Regions from separate parts of the Homo sapiens genome. Here region 2 is linked to region 1. The links come from fine-mapping of genetic effects on gene expression. Tissue or cell type: whole blood. Region 1 holds a variant in brackets; the other region holds the start of a gene. Each region is shown on its reference strand, or each on the opposite one. Region 1 holds the start of CEBPE (CCAAT enhancer binding protein epsilon). Region 2 holds the start of HDC (histidine decarboxylase).

Region 1 (5,365 bases):
GGGACAACCTTACTGTGGTAAAGGTGCCAGGAGGACCAAGGGGCAGGGAAGCTGAATCCAGGGGCAGAGAGAACCCTGCTCTCCACCTGCCCCGGCTTCTTAGGCACCATCCTCCTTGACAGAGGGAATGAAAATAGTCATTTGCAACCCCTGCAGCCCCATTCTGGAGGGAAGGTGCATCTTTTTCTTACTTATCCTCTCCTTCCTTCTTTCATTCAGCATCTACTCCTGGCTTCCTTTCTCTCGGTCACCTTAGGGCTTTTGCATTTACCCTTCCCTCTGTTCACCCTTACACTCAAAGACATACCTGCCTCCTTCTCAAAATTTTTGAAGTGTCAACTAAAATGTCACTTCCTCAGAGATACCTTTCTCGGCCACCCCAGCTAAAATAGCCTCCCTACCTGTTGGTTTATGTGGTTTCCCCAATGGGCTATTCAAATGGAGTAAGCAGGAGAAGTTAATTAAGGTGCTTTATGAAGATGTGAACCAACAGTATCTGGGGAAAGTTCCTGGAGTGGTGAAGTCCCCTGGGCTAGCCCAGCACGGGGGGCGCCTGAGGGCCAGGAATCCTTTGGGAGGGACTGTGGAGAGCGCCGGTCAGCAGGGGGCTCCCACCACTCTCCTCCTGCCAGTCTCACCCCCACCCCATGAGAGGCTGGTTGATGTAGGGAGGCATCCACCTGGGGACTGTGTAGGGTGATGAAGGGTGGAGAGGGTTCTGGAGGGGCAAAGGAAGACATTCAGCACACTTGTTTATTGACTTTTTCTTCCTACTCCTTCTGCTGAGAACTTGTCTCATTCCTAGAAAAGATACTCAACAAATACTTGTTGAATAAGTTACGTTGGCCAAAACCAATTGAGGTCAGATTGAAAGCCTCTTTCAGGAAGTGTGCCCTCTGGCTCTGACTCACACCCCTGGAATATGATCTGATGCAGAGGATTGGGATGTGTTCAGCTGCTGCACGTCACGCTGGGATCACAGTGGGGAGACGGGGATGTGACTCCCCCAGACTGGGTGCCAGTCAGGAAGGCTCCACTAGGCACCGGCCCTGAGGACCTGACTGGGTGAGCGGGGGCCTGAGAGGAGAAGCAATTCAGAGCTGTGGGAACAAAGCCTGGGCTTCATGCTGAAGCAACCCAGGTCCCATCACCCAGAACCTTGAAAGTAAGTCAAGGGACAGTGGTCTTGAGCTGAGAGGAGGAAATCCGGAGGTTGAGTCATTTACCATGTTCTGTACAAACCCCCCTTATGCAACCTATCCCCCTGGGCTGAAAGGAAGGTGTGAGGATTCTCCCAGGTGCCCACAGAGACTGGTACCTCCCCTCCTTCTGAACTCAGGAAGCTCCAGTCGGTCCCTCCACTGAAGGTTCAGATCTCTCCCTCCAAACCAGACCTGGGGCACGGGCCTCCAGGACACAGAGGTGCCCGAGAGACACAGAGGCAAAGGCAGGAAAAGGACTGAGTCCTGGGCAAGGTAGACATGCCGCACACGGATGCCCGAGGTGTGGGAGGGCTCTACCGCTGGAGATTTGAAGAAGGGAGAGAGATCTGGGATGATCCAGACACCAGTCTCTCACCTTCTCAGAAAATTATTCCTTGATGTCTGACTCAGCCTTTCACAGCATTGGCTTAGGAGAGACTTTAAGAAGCCCGTAATCTGTCCCTGGGTCCCTGACACTGTTGGGCACTGTTCTTTATTGAATGTGATTCATGTGACACTCGTACTGAGGATCTGTGAGAAGAGTGTAGCGTGGAGTAGAGAGACAGGTACCACGTACTGAGGCAGCAAAGGGACTCAGTGAGTGTCAGGAGAAGCCTCTTACCCCTCTGGCCCTCAACTGCTTTATCTGTAAAATGTGGCTCACCCTACCTTGCTGGTCTGAGGGCAGAGCCCACCAGATGATCTCTTGAGGTCTCTCCCAGCACATCTTGAGATCTGCGATTTTACAGAGCCAATTTTGGTTCTACCTCTAAACAATCGTGTGACTCCAGGTAAGTCCCTTCCCCTCTTTGCAGCCTGTTTTCTTACCTGCAAAATGAGTTTAGATGAGATCTCTGAGGTCCTTTCAGTTCCAGCAAAATGGAGGAATCATAATAAATATGCTTATTACATGCAAAGTTTTCTTTTTCTATGAATATAACAACACTACGGAGTGGGGACAAATATTGCAACCATTTTGCAGATGAGGAAACTGAGGCACAGAAAGACATAATGGCTCAAGGCTCACAGCTAGTAAGTAGCAGTGTAAGATTCAAACTGAGGCTCTTAATTATTGTACCATTCTGTCTCTTAGGCTGTAGTCCAATGCAAAAGAAAATGCTGTTTCGAATGATGGGTTTCCCTGGCACGGGCAGATTGTCATCCTCCTTCTCACTACCAGTGTTCTCATACACAAATCCGGTCTCCAGGTCTTTCCCAACCGATTCCTGTCCCATGCACTCAATTCTCAAGCTTTAGGGAACTGGAGCCTCAGGGATGAGGGACAAAGGATGGAAATGAATGGGTGGGAGCAGCGTGGGGAGGGTGTCCATCTGGTAGACTGAGGCTTTGGAA[A/C]TGGAGAGAAGAGATGGCGGGCTGGATCAAGGGACCATAAATATGGCAGAGCCATCAGGAATTTTCCCATGGTCACCTGGGGCAGGAGCTCCCAGACCTATACCTCAAGGTGAGAGAGAGTGGGCCTGGGATCAGCAGGCCTGGGCATGAAGGACTGTGTGGTGCCGGGATCTCCCTACAAGCTGAAGATCTTTGTTAGCAGAGCATACAAAGGTGCTCCAGGTCCTGTGGGGGGCGGGGATGTGCCTTCAGCTCACAGAAGGGGGTGATGGGGGATGTCAGGGAGAGAAGAGCAGAGTGACAGATACACGGCCTGGCTGTGTGGTATATTGGGGGTGGGCTGTGGACAGCATGTCTGTGTTTCCACATGTCCACTTGGTCATGGAAACAAGAGGTGCAGACCTAGCCACATGCATCCTCTGTCCCCAGGGTCCTCCATGACACACACACACACACACACACACACACACACACACACACAGCCAACAGTCCCAACACCCAGTCACAGTGCAACTTTATTCAGCCATATAATCATTATGCTGGGTCCTGCCCTCTTTGCCACCCCGGTTGCCATTTATCCATGGTCTATGTCTCAGGGTTCTAGGCCCCCAGCAGGATGGGGGTCCGCAGAGTTAGGCCGTGCCAGGGAGCCTGGTGCCCACAATCCACCAGCCAGCCTCAGCTGCAACCCCCCACGCCCTTGATGAGGTTGGCCGCCTCAGGAATCTGGCGGAAGAGGTTGCGGAGGGTGTCTAGCTCCTGGGTGAGCTGCTCCACGCGGCTGCGGAGGCGCTCGTTCTCTGCCATGTACTCCAGCACCTTCTGCTGCGTCTCCAGAATGCGCCTCTTGGCCTTGTCTCGGCTCTTGCGCACGGCGATGTTGTTGCGCTCCCGCCTCAGCCGGTACTCAAGGCTATCTTTGTTCACTGCCTTCTTGCCCTTGTGTAAGGGGCCAGCCGGGGAGGGCGCCTTCAGGAGGGGACTGCAGGGGGGTGCGGCAGTGGCCAAAGGGGCCTGGAGGGGAAGGCACGGAGAGACGGAGAGGTGAGGGCTGGCCAGGAGGCAGAGCGGAGGCGGGGCGGGAATCTCGGCAGCCAGGGCACACTTGATGCGTCAAAGGAATACAGGACTCAGAGCCAGCTCCTGTCTCTCAGGTCAAAACTATCATCGCTCTGCTTCTGGGAGATGGTGACCCAGATGCACAGGGTCCTCTGCTTGAGACCAAAACTCCCTTTCATGTTCTCACACTTTCTTTCTTTCTTTTTTTGTAAAGATGGAGCCTTGCTATGTTGTCCAGGCTGGTCTCCAACCCCTGGCCTTAAGCGAACCTCCTGCTTTGGCCTCCCAAAGCGCTGGGATTACAGGCATGAGCCACGACACCCAGCCAATGCTCTCACACTTTCTGAGTACACTTTCCCTCAATCTGCCTTGAGTCTCCCGTTCTATGACCAGTAGACATTTCTCACAGAAGCAGGCGGCAGAGAAACAAGAGGAGGGGGCATGGTGAGCAGCAGAGAGGCTGGCGGTGGGGGCCTGAGATCAAGTAGGTCAGCTTGCCACAGGGGCTTTGGGTGGGGATTCAGGGTGGGAATGAATTCACAGAGAAGGAAAGGGAGGTCATGGTGGGGTGTGAACACAGAGGACTGTGGGTTGGGTCCATTTCACAGAGCGACACCAAGCACAGGCTCAGCAGCATGAGCCGGGGCACAGGGTCCTGTCCACACCAGCCTCTCCAGCCCCGGGCAGGAGGGAGGAGGGCTGGCCTGCTCTTACCTTGAGAACGCGCAGAGGCTGGCCGGGTGCTGCCAGAGTTGGGGGCAGGTGCATGGCTGTCTGCCCACAGTGTGCCACTTGGTACTGCAGGGGATTGTAGCTGCCTCGGCTGGCAGCTCGGCTGCCCTCTGGCCCCCGGGGCTCCTCCTTCACCGCCACAGCCCTGGGGTCGTAGCTCCCTGGGCTGCTGTAGATGCCAGGCCCCAGCGCCTTCCTGTCTGGGCCGAAGGTATGTGGAGGGTAGGCAAAGGGCCGAGGGTCAGGCGGCAAGTAGTGGGGGAAGGCAGGGGTTCCGGGGCCCTTGAGGCCTCTGGCCTCAGGCGCTGGCTTCACGGCAAAGAGATCGGAGAGAAGCTGCTCTTCCCCAGACTCGATGTAGGCGGAGAGGTCAATGGAGGCCTCATGCTCACACATGTCCCCTAGCTCCCCGGGCCCAGCTCGGCCCCCTGAGAACTCGAGTGGCTGCTGGCCACCCCGGGGCTCACACTCGTAGTAGGTCCCGTGGGACATGGCCGGCCCGCCCCCTCGGCTCCCCGCCCCCACCTGCTCTTGAGGCACCCCTTGGGGTGCTCCGGCTGCCCTCTCTCTACCTCCTCCTGACCTGGGCCTGCCCTCTCTCGATCTTCTGCCCTAGACCTGCCCTCTGCAGTCTCCTCTGTCACCCACTCCTGTGTGGCCTCTCTCCCCCCTCTGCTCTGCTTCCTTTTCCTTCCTCTGTAGTCAATGCCTCTCTTCTCTTCCCTTTTTTCCCCTCTCTCCCCTTGGGGTGACTCAGGGAGGGGCAGGACACACCCCAGAGGGAGAGATGTAAGCCTTAGAGAAAGGCGACTCCTGGCCTATTCAGCAGTTGGGGACACTCCTTGGTCAGGGACCAAGCCAGGGTTCTGGAGATGCCCGAAGCTGATGCTTCTGGGAATGCCTCTCCACTCCCTGCTGGGAGGCCAGGGGACTCCAAATCCTCGCAGAGGGCAACACCCCACTCTGAGCAACCTCCTCCCTCCGACTTTGAAAAAGTTCTATGCAGAATGAGGTTCCAA
Region 2 (5,386 bases), not on the chromosome of region 1:
CACAGTGCTCAGGTACTGGCAGATGTAATCCACCATCTCTCTCCCTAGAAGTGACATAGAGAAATCAGGCTGAAATCCCCTGACTGGGCCTGACCGATTTGTGCCCATCCCTCTCAGGTCCGGGCCAAGAGACTTGGTAAAGAAGGAGATGGATTTGGCCGGGCACAGTGGCTCATGCCTGTAATCCCAGCACTTTGGGAGGCTGAGGCAGGCGGATCACGAGGTCAGGAGATCAAGACCATCCTGACTAACATGGTCAAACCCCTCTCTACTAAAAATACAAAAAATTAGCCGGGCGTGGTGGCAGGCGCATGTAATCCCAGCTACTTGGGAGGCTGAGGCAGGAGAATCGCTTGAACCTGGGAGACGGAGGTTGCAGTGAGCCGAGATCGTGCCACTGCACTCCAGCCTGGACTCAAAAAAAAGAGAGAGACAGATTCATGGGCCGAGGGTAGGATCTGATCCCCTGCACGACCTTATCTTCAGAATTTAAAAAAAGAGTGAGGGAGTGAATGAATGATGGAGGGAGTTTCTAAGTGAGCAAATGAACAAAAAGGAAAATCTCCAAAGCACAAAACTCTAGCGCCAAAGTGAAACGTTTCATTTTCTTTCCCCTTCCTTTATCCACTTCAATTTTGATTGTCTCTCCTACCTTTCTTTCCTTCTCAGAAACAGAACATCTATTAACTATTTTATAGGTTCAATAGAAACTCTATAGCTCTTTGTATCCAAAAATTGTTACACACACACCCACCAGTTATATCTGTTAGCACAGATAGAAAGATTCCATGCCCAGTTCCGATAAAGGACAAAAAAATCTATTTTTTCACCATCCCCATTGAATCAGTTATTATTCATCTTTTTTGGACTCATATGAGGACTTAATTCAAGAATCTGATTAAAACTGTAGGCTTACATATACACAGAACTTTGTGTATAATTTCTGAGGCTCACAGAATCCCTAAAGCACAACCATGGATCCAGACCAAGCCCCCTGCCCTGGCCTGGGAAATGTGGCACCAAATCTTAATGACTTTCTCTCCCTCCTGCTGCCTCCATCAACACCTCAGTGCTTAGGATATTTTTTAGATGCTAAAAAAAAATGTATCAAGTGAATGAACATATGAGTAAGGAAGGAAAAAAAAGTCAAGTTGAACACTCTGAAACTATTGCAAATTATTTATTCTTTCAGATTGCAGTCTTCAGTGCCTCTGTTGCTGTGTGTGCATGTGTGTGTGTGTACATATCTCTTTGTCTGTCTCAACATCCATTCCTTAGTACTCCCTGGGCTGCTTTTACCTAGGAGAGGGGACTCAGTTTCTCCCCTCTGCATCAGCTTATGCAAAGTTCTTAAGAACAGAACCAACCCCAGACAAAACTTATGAGACAAAGGTAGATTTCCACACCATTCTATCTTCCTTCTGCTCCCCTTCAACCCTCTCACATCCTGGTTCTTCTCCAGCAGGGCCCCACCAGAGATCTGAGAGCTCTAGACCTAACCCTCCACTGATCCAGGAACAGTGCTAAATGTATTTGTGTTCCACTCAGAAGATAAATATCCACAGGAACTTGCTCTCAGCTGACAGTGCCTTAGGAAAGCAATGGAATAAGCTAACGCACACTAATTAGTGAGTAGGAGGATATAAAACATTATAGAAATAGACATTCAAGATTCTTTTTTAAGCAACTACCTACTTTCCTGCTAAGGGAGATCCATGCCTGAGAACTGGATAACCACTTGGTTTTGCCTGATACAGAGTAGGCACCTACTAAATATTTATGAAATGAATGACTAAATGAAAGAACACTGCTGATAGATTCACACATGAAGGAATGAATGTTAAGAAAGAAAGGATTTGCAGTGATTACAGAATATTGAGAAAATTTTTTTCTATTTCAGAATATGAACAATCCCCTTTTCCCATCTAGTGGCTCAGGGATCCAAATCCTCAATTTTGTGGGAAAGTGGGGAGGAAAAGCAAGGCACGGTAGTGTGGACATATGTGAGAGTGGGTATATGAGAGGGAGAATGAAAGAGTGGTTGAGAAAAGTTTTACACTCTGATCCCACATTCCTTTCGCAGAAAAAAAAATGTTGCTGGTGCCAACTCTCAGAAGGCAATTCTAATGCTCCCATCAAATGTCACCCCAGAATCTAAGGGCCACCCACCAGCAGCCGTTCCTGCAGGAGTAGCAGCAGGGAAGAGGGCCAGGGATGCCCGTTGCTCACCTCTCTCTCTGTACTCCTCAGGCTCCATCATCTCCCTTGGGCTCTGGCTCCTTCTCACAGATGGACACGCAGGAGGTGGAAGGCGTGAAAGGCGTGGAGCAGCCCGGCTTCCCTCTTGCCAGTCCTGCGCACTCCCTGGCAGCCAGTGTGGGCCCTTTATTTAAAGGGTTCTTTCTTTGACCTTAGCTCCGCCCTTCAAAGTCCCTTCCTCCAGGTTTAATTAATTCCACCCTTTCTTTCCCCAGTCCTTGTAGAAAACAGCGACCACAACTTTGACTGGTCAAGAGAGCCAGGATAAAAGGCGCTTCTAAATTAAGCAGTGCACTTAGCAACCCAAGCCTGCAGGCAGCCTCCAGGTGGATGCCGTAAAAGAGCCCTCAGTTCTTTCTGCCCCTGGATTCAGACAATAGAGCTCCAGCCTCAGACAAGCTCCCAGCTCAGTAGACCAGAATAAGGCCAAGGGTATGCAGAAAAAGTAGCACAAATTATTAGTATTATTCCTGCCCCTGTTTCCTTATCAGCAGTAGGGAGGGAGGAACAGGCACTAATAGTGATGCCCCCTGTGCCCAGGAACAGGCAGAAGTTATCATTGACCACAATGGATTTTTCTATTACAACATACTATCTGTTGTTGCAAAGAATGAAAAAACACAGTTATAAGCCAAAAAGAATAGAAATTAAAACATCACCCCAAATTAATCACTTTTAGCACTTAAAGAAGTAGAAGGGGGGCGTGTAAAGGGACCTGCAGAAACCCCTGTAGGGAGGGGAAACACTATCCTTGGGGTTTGATTTCTGAGTAAAAAGTAATCCAACGTTTTCACGTTGCTAAATGCAATAGTCTTTCTTGTTTATTTGTTTCCAGTCGTCCTTCTGGTTCTCTTGGTGGCATTTTATTTGTTACTACTTCATCCTTGCAGCTCACAGTTTCTCTGGGCTTTCCTCCTACATCTCTGGCTGTTTGTTTCCTCCAATGCTGGCACACCTCAGGGCATTGCCCTCCTTTCATCTTTCTGCTTTGGTGGCATTGCCCATTTCTAAGGCTTTTTTTGTTTTGTTTTGTTTAGACGGAGTCTTGCTCTGTCGCCCAGGCTGGAGTGCAGTGGCACAATCTTGGCTCACTGCAACCTCTGCCTCCCGGGTTCAAGCAATTCTCCCACCTCAACCTCCTGAGTAGCTGGGCCTACAGGTATGTGCCACCATGCCCCACTAATTTTTGTGTTTTTAGCAGAGATGGGGTTTCACCATGTTGGCTGGGTTTGTCTCGAACTCCTGACCTCAAGTGATCCACCCGCCTCAGCCTCCCAAAGTGCTGGGATTACAGGTGTGAGCCACTGCGCCCGGCCCATTTCTTAGGCTTGAAATGTTACCTATGTGATATCCGTATAGGTTTAAACATACCATCAGGCCCTCCCTGTCTTTTGAGCTTCAAAATCTTATATCCAACTGCCTTTCTGACAAATCCTCTCTTATGACTCTGAGGCACCTCAAACTTAACGTATTGCAAAACTGTCTTTCCCCAAAAATATGCCCCACTTCTAGTCTTCCCCATCTCAGTTCATCATCTCTCCATTTTCCATCCACCCATCTATTCACCCCTTGACCGTCCATTCATCCAACCACTCATCCATCCAACCACCATCCATGCATCCATCTATCCTTTCATCCATCCATTCATCCACCCAAATGCTGAAGGCATAAACCTGGTGTCTTCCTTCCCCTTCACTTTCCCTGCTCCCTGCCCAATTCAATCTGTTCAGATTCAGTTCTATTTCCAAAATAAATCTAGTCTGTCAAATTCTCCCCATTTCCATGACTACCACCCTATTCCGGTCCAAGCCACCATTATCCTTCACCTAGACTAATGCAGGAGGCTTCTCATTGGCCTGTTACTGACCATGGGTTCTTGGGCTCTCAATGTAATAGAAATTGAGAAGGCCAAAAGAGTTTTCCCAGACAGGGCATTATCAGAGCTTATGCCCAGGCATAAGGGAGACAGCACGAGAGAGAGAATTCTCTGGCAGGCTCCTTGAAGAGAGTCAGGAAAGTAATTTTAGGCTAAAATAGGTAGGAAATTTTTTAATTACTACTGAAAAAACTACAGTGAGAAATCACTTCATACAGACTATGATGACTATAATAAAAAAGATAGATAACAACAAGTATTGGTGAAGACAGGGAAAAATTAGAACCCTCATACTTTACTGGTGGGAATGTAAAATGGCACAGCCATTTTGGAAAATAATCTGGAAGCTCCCCAGAAAGCTAAACCTAGAGTTCTTTATGACTCAACAATTCTACTGCTAGGTGTATATCCAAGGAAAATGAAATCATGTCCACACAAAAACGTATACATGGGTGTTCATAGCAGAATTATTATAATAGACAAAAATGGAAATAATCCAAATGTTCAGATGAATGAATGAAACGTAGTATATCAATACAACAGAATATTATTCCATGATAAAAAGGAATGAAGTACTGATACATACCAAAACATGGATGAACTTGGAAACATACTAAGTGAAAGAAACTAGTCACAAGGAACCATATATTATATTATTTCATTCATATGAAATATCGAGAATAGACAAATCTACAAAATAGATTCATGGTTAGAAGTGGGTAGGGAGCTGAAGATTGATGGCTAAGGAGAACAGGGATTTTTGGCAGGGTGGTAAGATGAAAATGTTCAAAATTGTTGGGTTTTGGTTTTGTTTTATTTTGCTTCGTTTTATTTTGCTTTGTTTTGTTTTGTTTTGAGATGGAGTCTCACTCTGTGGCCCAGGCTGGATTGCAGTGGTGCAATCTCGGCTCACTGAAACCTCTGCCTCCTGGGTTCAAGCAATTCTCCTGCCTCAGCCTCCTGAGTAGCTGGGATTACAGGCGTGAGCCACTGCGCCCTGCTGAAAATGTTTTAAAATTTATTATGGTGATGGTTGCACACTTCTGTGGATATACTAAAAGCTATTAAACTGTACACTTCAAACGAGGAAATTTTATAGAATGGGAATTATATCTCAATAAAACTGTTGATTTAAGAAAAAAAAAAGCCCTAAGAAAATAAGGGCATTGGTGAAAAAATGGCCTAGAGGATTTAGATTCCAGTGATATTGTCAATAAATCCTTCATTAGGAGCCAGGGTGGGAAAAATAAT

The links. PIP is the estimated chance that this variant, and not a neighbour inherited with it, causes the effect.
Region 2: it holds the start of HDC, and the variant in region 1 is the best candidate, but not a certain one, in a credible set for the expression of HDC in whole blood (TOPMed, PIP 0.52).

What each region holds. Positions count from the first base shown.
Region 1 is chr14:23,114,254-23,119,618 of GRCh38, forward strand. It overlaps CEBPE (CCAAT enhancer binding protein epsilon), which reads right to left and starts at 5,002. Exons shown (of 2, transcript NM_001805.4): 1 at 4,329-5,002; 2 at 3,053-3,569. The coding sequence starts at 4,838. The coding sequence ends at 3,234. RefSeq lists enhancers at 1-347, 513-1,712. The variant A/C (reference allele first, on the strand shown) is at 2,556.
Region 2 is chr15:50,263,364-50,268,749 of GRCh38, forward strand. HDC (histidine decarboxylase) reads right to left here and starts at 2,363. Exons shown (of 12, transcript NM_002112.4): 1 at 2,230-2,363; 2 at 1-44. The coding sequence starts at 2,260.